Homo sapiens: one gene and its partners. The protein of the gene in region 1 interacts with the protein of each later gene in a pairwise test. Each region holds a gene or a part of one and is shown in the gene's direction. Other genes may lie near its edges.

The links. Proteins that work in one complex are often made in the same cells at the same time.
Region 2: the proteins of KRT86 (region 1) and JOSD1 interact in a two-hybrid assay, tested with the Homo sapiens proteins (one large-scale study listed by BioGRID and IntAct).
Region 3: the proteins of KRT86 (region 1) and MGAT5B interact in a two-hybrid assay, tested with the Homo sapiens proteins (one large-scale study listed by BioGRID).
Region 4: the proteins of KRT86 (region 1) and ODF1 interact in a two-hybrid assay, tested with the Homo sapiens proteins (one large-scale study listed by BioGRID and IntAct).

The regions. Positions count from the first base shown.
Region 1 is NC_000012.12:52,302,145-52,305,644, forward strand, and holds part of KRT86 (keratin, type II cuticular Hb6), read left to right. Parts: coding exon 1-141; intron 142-955; coding exon 956-1,164; intron 1,165-1,966; coding exon 1,967-2,027; intron 2,028-2,787; coding exon 2,788-2,883; intron 2,884-3,095; coding exon 3,096-3,260; intron 3,261-3,500.
Region 2 is NC_000022.11:38,698,144-38,702,218, reverse strand, and holds the start of JOSD1 (josephin-1), read left to right. Parts: upstream 1-1,275; 5' UTR 1,276-1,419; exon of another isoform or gene 1,420-1,600; 5' UTR 1,601-2,231; coding exon 2,232-2,416; intron 2,417-4,075.
Region 3 is NC_000017.11:76,874,904-76,878,403, forward strand, and holds part of MGAT5B (alpha-1,6-mannosylglycoprotein 6-beta-N-acetylglucosaminyltransferase B), read left to right. Parts: intron 1-3,500. UniProt on the Homo sapiens protein: Glycosyltransferase that acts on alpha-linked mannose of N-glycans and O-mannosyl glycans.
Region 4 is NC_000008.11:102,558,054-102,561,518, forward strand, and holds the end of ODF1 (outer dense fiber protein 1), read left to right. Parts: intron 1-2,398; coding exon 2,399-2,831; 3' UTR 2,832-2,965; downstream 2,966-3,465.

The DNA.
Region 1 (3,500 bases):
TGCATCACCACCGTGTCGGTCAACGAGAGCCTCCTCACGCCCCTCAACCTGGAGATCGACCCCAACGCGCAGTGCGTGAAGCAGGAGGAGAAGGAGCAGATCAAGTCCCTCAACAGCAGGTTCGCGGCCTTCATCGACAAGGTGGGTGTCCTGGATCACACCCTTCCTGAACCCCCACCACCTACACAGCCAGGGCCGGGCACTAAGGATGGAGTCAGAGGCACAAAGACCTCTGCCTGCCTGAGATCCCAGTCTGATGGGCGAGGCACACAGACACACAGACAGACAGACACATGCACAGACACACACACACAGGCACTCAAGATGCAGACTCAGCTGACAGTTCAGATAGAGGGAGCTTGTGAAGGAAAAGTGTGGCCAGGCTGCTCTGGGGCACAAGCTAGACATCAGGGAGTTGGGGGAGGGGGGCATGTGACCACTGCTGCTGAACTCAGAGGGGTTTGGGCAGCCCCAGGGTGAGAGAGTAGGGTGCACTGACTTCCAGATGACACAGGGGAAGGGCTGGGACAGCTGAGCTCCCTTCCAGATGGCCTGTGACACCCTCTTCCTGGCACCATCCCCAGAAACCTCATCTGTGATCTGAACCTGAGTACTCTGCCTGTGTGGGTTGCTGATCACCTAGTTTCATAGTGAGGGACTGAGCCTCTACTTCTGTTCATCTGCTTGGGTGGGGGGTGGGGGGGGGGTCACTCAACTCCCCAGGGAGCAGGCACTGACACCACCCAGCCCTTGCTCCACTCCTGAGTGGGAAATCTAGACACAGATCATGACCAGGAAATCCAGAAATTGTCTGTCTCCCACTGCCCACCTCTACTCAATCTCAGATAAGCTCCAGATTTGGGGGTTCCCATTAAAGCACCTCCCCTGCGAGCCCCCAGAGCTGGCTTTGGGGCACCAGACACCATCTGCCCCACCTTCCCACACCGAATGGCAGGTGCGCTTCCTGGAGCAGCAGAACAAACTGCTGGAGACAAAGCTGCAGTTCTACCAGAACCGCGAGTGTTGCCAGAGCAACCTGGAGCCCCTGTTTGAGGGCTACATCGAGACTCTGCGGCGGGAGGCCGAGTGCGTGGAGGCCGACAGCGGGAGGCTGGCCTCAGAGCTTAACCACGTGCAGGAGGTGCTGGAGGGCTACAAGAAGAAGTGAGTGCGGGCAAGAGGGATGCTGGGCACAGGAATGGGGTTTAGGTTAAATACACTGGATTAGACAATAAGAACTCCCAGGTAGGGTGAGTGGCCATGACCACTAGATTGACCGAGGGTGGCGGGGTCTTTTCCTTTGTGGAATCTTTGCCCAGACACCTGTGTAAGAGGAGGGCTGTGACTCCCATGACCTGTCTCTGTCCCACTTCAGCCTTCTCTCCCTGAACCACATCACCCAGCAGCTCTCCCCTGCGCTGGGTGGGGAGGAAGCCTCTGCAGGGTCCAGGCCTTCTCTCCTGACCCTCAGCCCCTATACTTGTAGCACCTGTCAGATGTGAGCCCAGGGTCTCTCATGAGTGACAGGTCTTGGGCTCTGGGTGTCGCACTGCCTTAGGTTCTAAGTCCTGAGGGTCTGCGGGTCCAGGAGGCCCCATACCTGAGCTGGGATTGATACCAGTGAGGGGAGGCTAGGGCTACAGGCCCTGAGAGTCCACGCTGTCCACTCCCAGGATGGGGCTGGGGGCTGAGTCCTATTTGCCTCCTGGGGGACCTCAGAGCCCCTTTGGGAACAGGACTGGGAGGTCCCAGATGAGCACTCTCCATCCCCAGTTCAAAGTGGATAGAGAATCCCAGACACATCCCACATCCAACTAGAAAGCACTAAGCTAGGCTGCCAGGCCGGGGCTGTGTGGAGGTGTTTCTAGTACTGTCCCCATGGCTGTGATGAAGTGTGATGTGATGGTGGCTCTGCAGAGACCTGCCCTGCCCTGACCTCCCCTCTCTTCCCTCTGCTCTGTCTCAGGTATGAGGAGGAGGTTTCTCTGAGAGCAACAGCTGAGAACGAGTTTGTGGCTCTGAAGAAGGCAAGTGACACAGGATTGAGAAGCACAGATCTGTGGGATCTCAGAATGACAGATTCTTCCTGGGGACACACAGGGGGTCTCAACCTCAGCGTGGGGCACAATGACCTTTCCACAGCAGGCTAGGACTGCCCAGATGCAGGCCTTTGTATTGAGCATCCAGGGCCTTGACAAAGGGCAATGACTTGGGAATATCTACCAGCACCTACCTTGGGCAAGGGGATGGCTGCACTGTCCTCTGTGTGTCCTGCTCTGTTCCAGAGGTTGTGGTCTATTGCTGAGGCCCCTGGAGCCATAGCAGATACAATGTCTCTGCTGAGAGACAGTGCAGTCTGTCTAGCATTTTGGGGAGTCTGACCTTGAGGCAGAGACACAATCCCAGGTTCTAAGGGGGGATGGAGAAGAACCAGGAGTAGCCCTTGGGCTTTTGGAGCACTGCTGGGGGACAGGAAAGGGTCAGGGTGTGAGAGCTGGGGGGTCAGTCTGGGCAGGCTTCCTGGAGCAGGAGAGGGGAGAAAGGAGAGATAAGAGGGTAAGGAGCAGTGAAAGGCTGGTGAGCCGTGCCCAAGACAAACAGGGTTTGTCCTCAGAATGGCAGAGGATGCCAGGTCACCCCGGGAAGGGCCAGAAGGGAAGGAGAGGGCATGGGAATGAGACACTGGGGACTCCTTTCCCCAGGCTTCATGGAATGGGTGGGAAGAGAGAGGAATCTAGAGGCTGGATCACCAGGGTCCTTGAGCTCCAACACTCCCCACCTTTCCAGGATGTGGACTGCGCCTACCTCCGCAAATCAGACCTGGAGGCCAATGTGGAGGCCCTGATCCAGGAGATCGACTTCCTGAGGCGGCTGTATGAGGAGGTGCGGGCTCAGGGGCCAGGCAGAGACCTGGCAGCCAGCAGAGAGGAGAGATGGGGGTGGGAGTGTTGGACAGGATGTGGGTAGAGGTTGCAGTCCCTGAGGCTGTGTGAGGGGGCAGGGTTGGGGACCAGAGAAAGCCTGAGGAGGTGGAGTCAGGACATGGTGGGTGGGGCTGTGTTCTCAACTAAAGTCACTGCCCTCACCTCCTGCAGGAGATCCGCGTTCTCCAGTCCCACATCTCAGACACCTCCGTGGTTGTCAAGCTGGACAACAGCCGGGACCTGAACATGGACTGCATCATTGCCGAGATCAAGGCACAGTACGATGACATTGTCACCCGTAGCCGGGCTGAGGCCGAGTCCTGGTACCGCAGCAAGGTGAGTGGCACAGGACACCTGCCTGCTAGACATGGCAGTGGGAGGGATTTGAGATTATCTATTAAATAGGCTTCCTTTTCTGGGGATGCACTAGGGATGAGAAGAGATGGCTGCCACTCTGATGTTGGGGTGGTAGGGCAGGACTGCCATGTGTGGTTGCACAGGCTGAGCACTGCACAACCTGCAAAATCATCTGTCATGCCCTGAATGGGTGGGAGGTCCCACCCTGAACCTCATGAG
Region 2 (4,075 bases), on another chromosome or scaffold:
AAGTTAAACTCCATCTTAAAAAAAAAAAAAAAAAAAAAGGCCGGGCACGGTGGCTCACTTCTGTAATCCCAACACCTTGGGAGGCCAAGGCGGGTGGATCACCTGAGGTCGGGAGTTCGAGACCAGCCTGACCAACATGAAGAAACCCCTCTACTAAACACACAAAATTAGCCGGGCGTGGTGGCGCATGCCTGCAATCCCAGCTACTCGGGAGGCTGAGGCAGGAGAATTGCTTGAACCCGGGAGGCGGACGTTGCGGTGAGCGGAGATCATGCCATTGCACTCCAGTCTGGGCAACAAGAGCGAAACTCCGTCTCCAAAAAACAAAACAAAACAACTAAATTTGAAGTGCAACAGTTTCTTCTCGTTTTTCCAGTTTTACAGAAAACCCAAAAGAAGGGCAGCTAAGGTGGATAATGATGCCTACCACGCACCCTAAGAGTAGGTAAAGGGGAAAAAATGAAATCCACGTGGGACTGCGAGTAGTTTTCGCCTTTTCCCGAAGACGCACACAATGCGCTTAGGTATACCTCGCGCAGAGGTCTCTGCAGAGAGGAAAGCCACCGTGAGAAGAGCGGGGAGCCCCCAGGCAAGAAGGCAGTGGCTTGTGTGTAGTGAACCGAAATGCGACACCAAGGAACTGCAACAGGATTCTCCTTTCCACTTGAAATGTGACTCCCAGCGAGACACCTACCCTTGACGCTCCCTGGACAGTGCGGCACGGTCGGGCCCACTAACCAAGGCAATTTGCGCCCGACCGAATCAGGTGCTTCAAAATCCCCCCTGGTGAGCCGCGCGTTAACCACACATAAAACAGTCAACGCAGAAGGAGCGAGAACGTTCGGCCGAAAAGCCCGGCACAGAGAAGGGAGGGGTGCTGAAAGCCGCGGACTGCAGCCGCTGGCCTGGCTGCCGCCCCGAAACAACGCCCACGCCCGGGAGAAGGGCAGGCTGGCGTCCAGGTAGGACTCCCTCAGGCCGCCCCGCCAGGGGCCGCGCCGAGCGGAGCGGCTGGACCCCAACCCTGCCGGCCGCCGCCGAGGTGCGCAGCCCGCAGCCCCACACCCACGGCCTTTGCAACACCCCAACCGTTGAACTGCGCCCCTACACGCCCGGCGTCTGCGGCTCCCAGGCCGGTGCCGATGACGTCAGACTTACGTCAGGCGTGACGCCACGGCTGGGAGGAGTGAGGACGGCGCGGGAGGGCGTTTCCGGAGCACGCGCCGGGCGGGGGCCGCTGACGTCGGGCTCAGGTGCGCGCGCCCGCCCGCACGGCCCAGTTGGCGGCGCGCACTCCAGGTGGCGGCCGGCTGCGGTGAGGGGACCGCCAGCGGCGAGCAGTCCCGGCGGCCCTGGGGTCTGCGGCCGGGGGCGCGGCGGGAGGGCGTCTGGGCCTGCGCTCACGTGACGGGCGGGGAGGTTTGTGTAGGGGCTGCGAGCCGGGTGGGCGCGGGCCCGGGAGCGCGAGGCTGACTGTCCGGCCCCACCCCTCGCGGGCCAGCCCTTCGCCGCGCGGAACCTTCCCTCGGGCAGGGGCCGGCCCCGCCGCTCACTTCCCGCGCCCGCTCGCCGCTGACCGGAGTTGTCTCCTCCTCCGCAGGGCCGCGGCCAGAGGGCTAGAATCCGCGCCTTCCGAGGGAGCCGCGCCCTGCGGGCCCCACCGTACCCGAGGGGATGGAGGGCTGCCCCCGAGGCCCCCGCGCGGCTCGCGGTCCCACGCCTGCCGGCCCGCGCTAGCTACTCGACTCGTGCGCTAAATTTATCCGTCACCCAGGCCTTGTCTCCCGAGTCATTGGCGTCGTGGTTCAAAAGAAATGGAAGAAAAGGAGCGATGTGACCGATTGTGTTCGGTCCTCCTGCTTTGAGGCCTGGCATTTGCAGAGGGAAACAGCAAGAAAATCGTGGGGATTTTGGAGGGGGGTGGGAGGGAAGGGTGGGGAAACGGAAACAAGGTCTTACATTTTATGTGTTTTTTTAAATTCTGCACTTTGACAGTGGTAGCAAAATAAAAGTAATCCAAAAGTTATTTTTCTATTGAGAAGAGAGAAGAGGTGGGTTTTATTTTTTTCCTTTTGATTCCAATCTTTTCTCCCAGTGACAAAGCATAAATCATGGACACCAGAGAATAAGGTGGACCTCAGGAATCCGGAAAAGACTGAGAAGCTTACATTCTTCCTCTAGAGGGAAGAGTGGGGTGTTTATAGCCATCTCTGGAACCTAAAACAAAAAACATGAGTTGTGTGCCATGGAAAGGAGACAAGGCCAAATCTGAATCATTGGAGCTGCCCCAGGCAGCACCCCCACAAATCTACCATGAGAAACAGCGCAGGGAGCTTTGTGCCCTCCACGCCCTCAATAACGTCTTCCAGGACAGCAATGCCTTCACCCGGGATACGCTGCAAGAGATTTTCCAGAGGTAGGGGACCCTTCTCCTTGGCATCTTGATACTGATATTTCTGGATTTCTGTGGGTGGGGCAGTGTCTCAGCTTCATAAACCTTCAAAGCTGTAGGTATTAGCTAGATTGCGTTAGCAGGTATAAGGGACACAAGACATGAAAAGATAATCACTACCATTTATCAGGCACTTACGGTGGGCTAGGAAAGTACTCATAGCCTCAGCTGTGTTTTCTTGAGTGATCTTCAACAGTCCCGTGGAATACGTGTTAATATGTGATGTTATTTCCATTTTACTGATGAAGACACATTTAGTTCAGTACCTCGCCCAAGATAACAAGACTTGGAGCTGGGGTTGAATTCTTATATCTATGCTGTTGACCACTATGCTATAATGCCTGTAAAGCTCTGCTGCCGAGGAGTTTACAGTCTAGAAGTGGGACTAGATACGTACACGTTCAGTCACCTGTCTTTAAAGGTGGAATGTGGTGGGTACCACAAGCAAGATGTATAAACAATGCTCAGCTTTTCTGTGAGGCCATGTGCTGGCAGTAGTGCTGTTCGTACATTGCTTTGTGAAGCTCTCCCAACAGTCATTTCACTGCCTGTATTATGCTGATAGGCAGAAAGGTCAGGTAATATGTCCAAATAGCTTCTAAATAGCAAAGCTATAATTTGAAGTTGACTCCAGATCTCTTCTTTCTCCTTTATTCTAGATGGCCTTTCTTACCCACTTAGAACAAATGCCACCCCACAGGTTAATAGAGGTTCAGGTTTTGGCCAAGTACGGTGTAATCCCAGCACTTTGGGAGGCCGAGGAGGGCAGATCACCTGAGTTCAGGAGTTTGAGACCAGCCTGTCCAACATGGTGGAACCCCGTGTCTACTAAAAATACAAAAATTAGCCCGGTGTGGTGGTGCACGCCTGTAGTCCCAGCTAGTCGGGAGGCTGAGGCAGGAGAATCGCATAAACTTGGGAAGTGGAGGTTGCAGTGAGCCAAGATTGCACCACTCTGCACTCCAGCCTGGGTGACGGGTCTCGGAAAAACAAAAAAAGAAGTTCAGCTTTTTTCTCTTTGCTTTGATTTTCTAGAATTACTTTATTAAAGGTTTTGAGAGTCAGTTCTGTGGTGTCTTAATGGACACAACAGCATGGCTGCAGTCCATAGCAACTCAGGTGATGATCTTGCCTGATGACCCCGACTAGAAGTAGTTAGGCCCGCGCAGTCCTCGCTGCAGAGAAGCTCAAGCATTCTTCAAGCAGTGCATATTAGCAATTCCAGAAGACCTTTTTCTTACTCTCTTAGCTTGGAAGTGAAATTGTTGCCACATAGGGACCAGAATTACAGCTGGAAGCAACCTATTTGGGGTGATTTGTAAAACACAGGTATGGACCATTTGCCCTGAAAGAGCCAAAGGCCTACTCTTAGGAGAATGTTAATCCCCAGATGCAGACAAAACTATAATGAGAGTAATTATTTTCCAATGCCAGTAGTAACCAGAGTAATGCCTTACCAGAGCTAATATATCATTTGCATCATGGCCATTATCTGGCAGCAAGTAGAATTGACTCTTCAGGACCTGGGGCACTGGGAGATAAAATAATTCGTCTCAGATCATCAGGTCATGTCACTGAAAGGAGGACCCAGTACATGCTTCCTTTTGGCCAGCCATTAGTATT
Region 3 (3,500 bases), on another chromosome or scaffold:
ACAATTGGACTAGAGGTGTGTGTGCATTCGTGTGTACATGTGCATGTGTGTGCATGTGTGTGTGCGTGTACGTGGTCTTAAACTTTTTAATGGGGTATCATATACACAAATGAACAATCCATGCAACTAACAACCCAGAGCAAGGACCAGAACGTGATCAGTCCCCAAGTGTCCCCATGCCACTTCACAGTCATTACTCACCCAAGGATAGTCACGACTTGACTTCTGATCACATAGAAGAGTTCTGCCTGTTTTTTGGACTTTGTGAGCATGGAATCGTTTCAGGAGTTGATATGGTTTGGCTGTATCCCCACCCAAATCTCATCTTGAATCGTAGTTCCCATAATCTCCACCTCTTGTGGGATAGACCCTGTGGGAGGTAATTGATTCATGGGGGTGGTTTACCTTGGTGCTGTTCTTGTGATGGTCAGTGAGTTCCCACAAGATCTGATGGTTTTATAAGGGGCTTTTTCCCTTTTGCTCGGTACTTCCCCTTCCTGCTGCCATGTGAAGAAGGACATGTTTGCTTCCCCTTCCACCATGATTGTAAGTTTCCTGAGGCCTCCCCAGCCATGCTGGACTCTGAGTCAATTCAACCTTTTTCATCTATAAATTACCCAGTCTCAGGTATGTCTTTAGTAGCAACGTTGAGAATGAACTAATAGAGGAGTAGTCTTTTGTGTGTGTCTTTTCTCTCAGTAGTACATGTGTGAGACTCACTATCTTGTATGCGGTTGTAGTCACTTGCACTTTTTTTTTTTTTTTTTTTTTTTTTGCTGTGTAGCCTTCCATTGTGTGAGTACACCACCATATTTTTATCCATCCGACCATTGGTGGGCATTTGGTCGTTTCCAGTTTTGGGCTTTTGCGAACAGTGCTGCTATGAATATTTCAGTGCACGTCTTTTGGTAAACATACGTAGGCATTTCTGTTGGGTATACCTAGGAGTGGAGATTCTACGTGTTGTAACATTAGTTCTCAGACCAAGTTTATCCAAGCCAGTCTTTTCACATTTCCCAGGCCTCAGAAGCTGAGTGCCTGGAATACAGAACTGAAGTCCGGGAGAAGGAGGAGACAGACAAGAAAAGGGCCGCTGAGAACCCAGGAGAGCTGACCCTGATTCACTTTAGATCCCGACTCGCATTGTCCTCCATGATTTCTTTCATACCCTTGGATCAAGCTAATCTGCTTGGGCAGACCCAAGGCAGGGACTCAGGCCGGGAAAGCAGTGTGCAATGTGGGTTTAACATCCTGATCCTGCAAGAGAAGCCCCTCAAACTACATCCCCACGCAGTGCCTGGGGCAGCCCTGCAGAAAACCTAGGAGGTACCAGCATTTCCACTTAGGAGATGCCTGAGGGAAGGATTAGGGCTTCACGGGGAGGTGCTTGGCAAATTGCTTGGCTGAATCAGGCCTGGGGAGGGATCTTGGAAGTCCTGGGCCAAGGTTGGATTGTTGGATAATGCACGTTTTGTTACCCAAAAGAAATCTGCGGAGTCTAGACAACCCCAGAGCAGAATCAGGAGAAGGAAACCCTCTAAGGCCCTGCTATTTAGAAAAAAAAAAAAAAAATTGCATTGGTCAACAAAACAATCTGTGTACAAATGGGAAAAACAATCTCTCCTCCCCTGTCAAACCGGTGACAGAAGTGGGGTCCCACATGGACTGTGGCTGCGAAGGGAGAGGGAGGAGAAGGCTTTTCTCGAAAAGAAGAGGAGGGCGTCATTCAGCCTCTTGTGGACTGTGGTCTATGTGTGGGGCCTCCAAATTCTCCTCTGTGCCTGTTTATACTTCATGATAAACTGCGTACTTTGGGGATGAAATGTGACTGACATCTCATTCTGTATTCTGCACACTCATCTTAAAGATTCAAGAGAGGAGGCTGCATGGGGAATCATGACCCGGAGGAGATCTGACTTCTTTCCCTCTTGCTGCATTTGGGCTGGGCCTGGGCTCTGGGGAGGGCTTTCCGGCATTGCCCCCTCCCAGGCAGCTCTGCCCCACTTCCCACCCCAGGTCCTCCTCCTGTTTCCTGCCCTTCCAGCCCTTCTCGCCTAGGCCTCCTTCCCCATGTGGCTGCAGATAGTGCTGTGAGGCTGTTTCCTGCCCTCTGACTTGTCTTGAAGAAGCAGTGGTAGGAGGCTGGGTGTGGTGGCTCACGCCTGTAATCCCAACACTTTGGGAGGCTGAGGCAGGTGGATCACCTGAGGTCAGGAGTTCGAGACCAGCCTGGCCAGCGTGGTGAAACCCCATCTCTACTAAAAATACAAAAATTAGCAGGGTGTGGTGGCACGTGCTGTCATCTCAGCTCCTCGGGAGGCTGAGGCAGGAGAATTGCTTGAACCAGGGAGGAGGAGGTTGCAGTGAACTGAGATTGCGCCACTGCACTCCAGCCTGGGTGACAGAGCAAGACTCTGTCTCGGCTTAAAAAAAAAAAAAAAAAAAAAAGTAGTGGTAGGAGGCTATCTTTTGGGAGGGGTCTGTAGGCTGAAGGTCCATGGCACAGCTGCATGTGTCTACTGGGCCCTGCCAGACCTCCCAGGCCTCCACCAGGGATTGAACCTGGGGAAGGCTACCTGGCTCTGTGGATGGCTCTGGCTCTGGCTCTGGCCCTTGGTACTAAGGGGCCCTGGGGCTCTTCTCTCAGGCTTGATGGATGGGGGACCGGGGCCCGGAGGTCTGAGGAAGAGCCTGGTGTGGCCTCCCACGGCCTGTCCTTGTCTTCTCTGCTGCCCGGAGCCCAGAGCTCCCGTGGCCTCAGCTGGTTTCTGCGGTGAGCGAGTACAGAGAGATAAATGTGCGCATTTCTCCAGCTGCACGAACACCCAGTCACAGTTCCCTTCTCAGTGCCAGGGAGGTCTCTGCTTTCTGGAGAGATGGGGGCTCATTCAATTTCCAATGGTAAAGGGTGGGGATGGGGACAAGAAAAGGGGGACGAAGGAGGATGAGAGAGACAGAGAGAGACGAAGAGCGTCTGGGGAGGAGACGGGGCCTCGGTGGGTAATAAACACATCCCGTCTGTAAATGAGAGGATCTATTTGTATCTCCCAGCGTCCCAGCTTTCCTTATTTATATGGAAATATGGAGGGAACGTGTGCCTGTTCTGAGTTGTATCACTGGGGCCTCACATTAGATATATTTCAATTTAGCTGATGCCAAGAGTGGTGAAGTGACTCTGGGGAAGCGATGTCAGCTTGCTCTGCTGACAGTCCCGGGGCCAGTGGTGGCTTTTAGGGGAGTGGGTCACTGGGGGAGAGTCGGCCTGACCTGCTTCCCTCCTGGGTACCCACCCCCTGCCTAGTCTTTGGGCATTTCCAGAGCACAAAATGTGCCTGGTACCCCGAGGGCTCATTGGGAAGGGGTAGGGGCTGTCTCCCCAGGTCTCAGGGGTTTCTGGAGTTCCATGCCATCTGCAGAAGATGGGAGCAGCTCCTGAGCCCCTGGCACGGGGGGACTTGGTCCAGTCTGATGGGGTGGGGCTTGAAGAACTACAGAAGGGG
Region 4 (3,465 bases), on another chromosome or scaffold:
TCTCCTACTTCTTGTTAGTGTGGCATAGGGTACCCTGGCACACCCAGGGCAAGAAAGACAATCATGCCCCATGCCACCCCCAGGTTTCATGGGGCCAGAGGTAGAAATGGGGCTGAGGCCGGGCGCGGTGGCTCACGCCTGTAATCCCAGCACTTTGGGAGGCTGAAGTGGGCGGATCACAAGGTCAGGAGATCGAGACCATCCTGGCTAACACGGTGAAACACCTTCTCTACTAAAAATACAAAAAATAATTAGCCGAGCATGGTGGCGGGCACCTGTACTCCCAGCTACTCAGGAGGCTGAGGCAGGAGAATGGCATGAACCTGGGAGGCGGAGCTTGCAGTGAGCAGAGATCGCCTCACTGCACTCCAGCCTGGGCAACAGAGCGAGACCCCGTCTCAAAAAAAAGAAAAAAGAAAAAAAAGAAATGGGACTGAATACAGTCCTCTGGGTGTATTACACAAGTTGTTTCTGTTTGCCTCAGTGTCTTCTGGGACTGAGTTCTGTTTGATCATTTTATAATTAGCCACTAAGAGTCTTGATCTGTAACTTTCAGTACAAGGGTAGTGAGCACTCAAACTGTTATCTAATCATGTTAGGGCTTAAGTGGAAAATACAGATAAAAATCAGTACGTATAGCATGATTTCATAAGAACACATACAAAACTCTCTCTCTACATGTATATAGAACTACACACACACACACACACACAGACACATACTCACACACACACTCACATAAAGTCAAACACCAAAATGCTAAGGGTTATATGAGATTATAGGTATTTTTAAAATAGTCCATATGTTTACTTATCTGTATTTTGAGTCTTCTACAATGAACTTGTATAACTTATGTAACAAAAAGAAGTAACTGCATAAACAAAATTCAACATACAAAAGTGATATAGTGATAATTACATCTGCATCACAGTTATTATTGTAAAGATTAAATGAAATATGCCTTTAACATGCTTAGCACCTTCCACAGCACATTGCAAAAAAAAAAAAAAGAAAAGACAAAACCTTAACATCCTATGTGCCAAGTATTATTGTAAATATTTTCTTGCATTAACTGATTTAAGCCTCACAACAACCCTATGATGTAGGCTATTTTTATTGTCCCAGTTTTACAGATGAGGAAACTGAGGCACCGAGAAGTAAGTTATCCACATGTTAGAGCCAAGCTTTAAACCTCGATACTCCAGTTCCAGAGTCTGTTCTTAGGCACTTTGCTTTACTACCTCTTGACGGATCATAACTGATCAATTAGTGTGAGCTGCTGTTGTTATTTTTATTAAGGATTTACACAATAGAATTAGTGAATAGCAACAAGGTAGGAACCACAGTAGCTCTGCAGTGAGGACAGAGGAGAGCCCTAATATGTAGCATTTTCCAATTTCCATGGTGTAAATATCCTCATCATGACTATGATTGATTTCAAGCTATCAGCGTGCAGTACTAACTGGGGATCGGGAAGAGATGTACACGATCAGCTCTTGCTAGCTGATGTGATCCTGATTATGGACACCACTGAGAGGTTGTTCTGTATCTGATCAACACGGCCCCACCCAGCTGACTGCCTTTCTGCTAGTGCTAGCTGTCCAGAGGCTAGAGTGACTTCCCAGCCTGGAGGAGCCAGGCGCTGGGCAAAAGACTTTCACACAACACCAGCCTGGGCAGAGCCAGGCCAGGGCTCTCCTGCCATCATTGTTTGATTGAGCTTTCAGGCTGTCTCTGTGCAATTGCAAGAGGTAGCACCTGTCCCATGAACCAGTAGGGCTGGGTTCGAAAGCTGACAGCCATCTCTAAAATGCAGATTTTAAGTGGTATCTTAGTTATATCCCATTTTTTAATCTATATAAATATAAAATATAATTTTTATATAATTTAATTATAGTTATATACACAATTTAATTACAGTAATAATAATGAGAGTGGTAATAATTAAGCAGGATTTATAATGTACGAAGCACAGTGCTAAGTAAAATATCATAATCTCATCTAATCCTCCAATAGCCCTATATGATGCAGGCATTATTATTGTTATCATTATTATTATCTCCATTTTGCAGATGAGGAAACTGAGGTACAGAAGGGTTAAGGAACCTACACAAGGATCAATAATAAGAGGAGGAGCTGGTATTTCAATACGAGAGAAGATTTGGAAGGGCAGGCAGCACGCATTCATTGTTAACAGCTGTGTACTTGCGGGGCAGTGTGATTCGCATGGGTGGACTCACACTTTTTACTTCATGCATTTGTGTAAAGTTTATTTTCACAATGGCTAGTATTAACTTTGGCTATTTCAAAAGCTAGAAATCAAAATATTGCTTCTCAAGCTGTGTCTGGATTCTGAGGTCTGAGCTCCCTCCCACCCTATCCCTTTTCTCAATTCCAGACTGAGAAGAACAACAAATAGAATTCTGGCTTCCTCCTGCTGTAGCAGTAACATTTTAGGATCGGTGAATGTATGCGGTTTTGAACCCGATCAAGTCAAAGTTCGAGTGAAGGATGGAAAGGTATGTGTGTCGGCTGAGCGGGAGAACAGGTACGACTGCCTTGGATCGAAAAAGTACAGCTACATGAACATCTGCAAAGAGTTCAGCTTGCCGCCCTGTGTGGATGAGAAGGATGTAACATACTCCTATGGGCTCGGCAGCTGTGTCAAGATCGAGTCTCCTTGCTACCCTTGCACTTCTCCTTGCAGCCCCTGCAGCCCCTGCAGCCCCTGCAACCCCTGCAGCCCCTGCAACCCGTGCAGCCCATATGATCCTTGCAACCCGTGTTATCCCTGTGGAAGCCGATTTTCCTGTAGGAAGATGATTTTGTAAAGTGCGCATAGGAACCCATTACTTAATAGAAGTCAGTTACTCCAGCCAGGCAGCTCTCCCAATGTTTCTCCTCTCCTTCCCATGGCCCCTGTTGTTGAAGTACGTAGGAAACTGAATACATAACTGCAATCTGCTGGTGTTGTGTGAAAGTCTTTTGGTTAAACCCACTGCAGGAGCCCTGCAGAGTTAGTGAACATTGGAATAATTAGTGGATGGCAATAGAAGGACGATATGGTGAGATCCACCCTCCCATTCCCTCCTCCATACTCAACTACCTCCAAACTCCAGGAGAAGACACTCTTCTGGTGGGCATCCCCAGACATTGTTTTCCAGATGATCCAGTGAAATGGCCTAGCCCAGAAACCAAATGGTCAAAGCAGAAACAGATTAGTTAGAGTTGAAGGAAACACTTTTTCAAAGCTACTGCAGTAGGGAGTCTGGAAAAGAGACTCCTCGAGCACAGTGGGATTGTGGTTTTACTGGACAATGATCAGGATACAAAAACTACGGGGTGGTAGGTGGGACGAGGGGCATGTTTGCTGGCCAAGGCGGGGTGGCCATACAGCTTGTCATTTTTCAACATTCTTGTGGTTTGGGGGATTGGCCAGCTCTGGTTAGTATATGGATGCCAAAC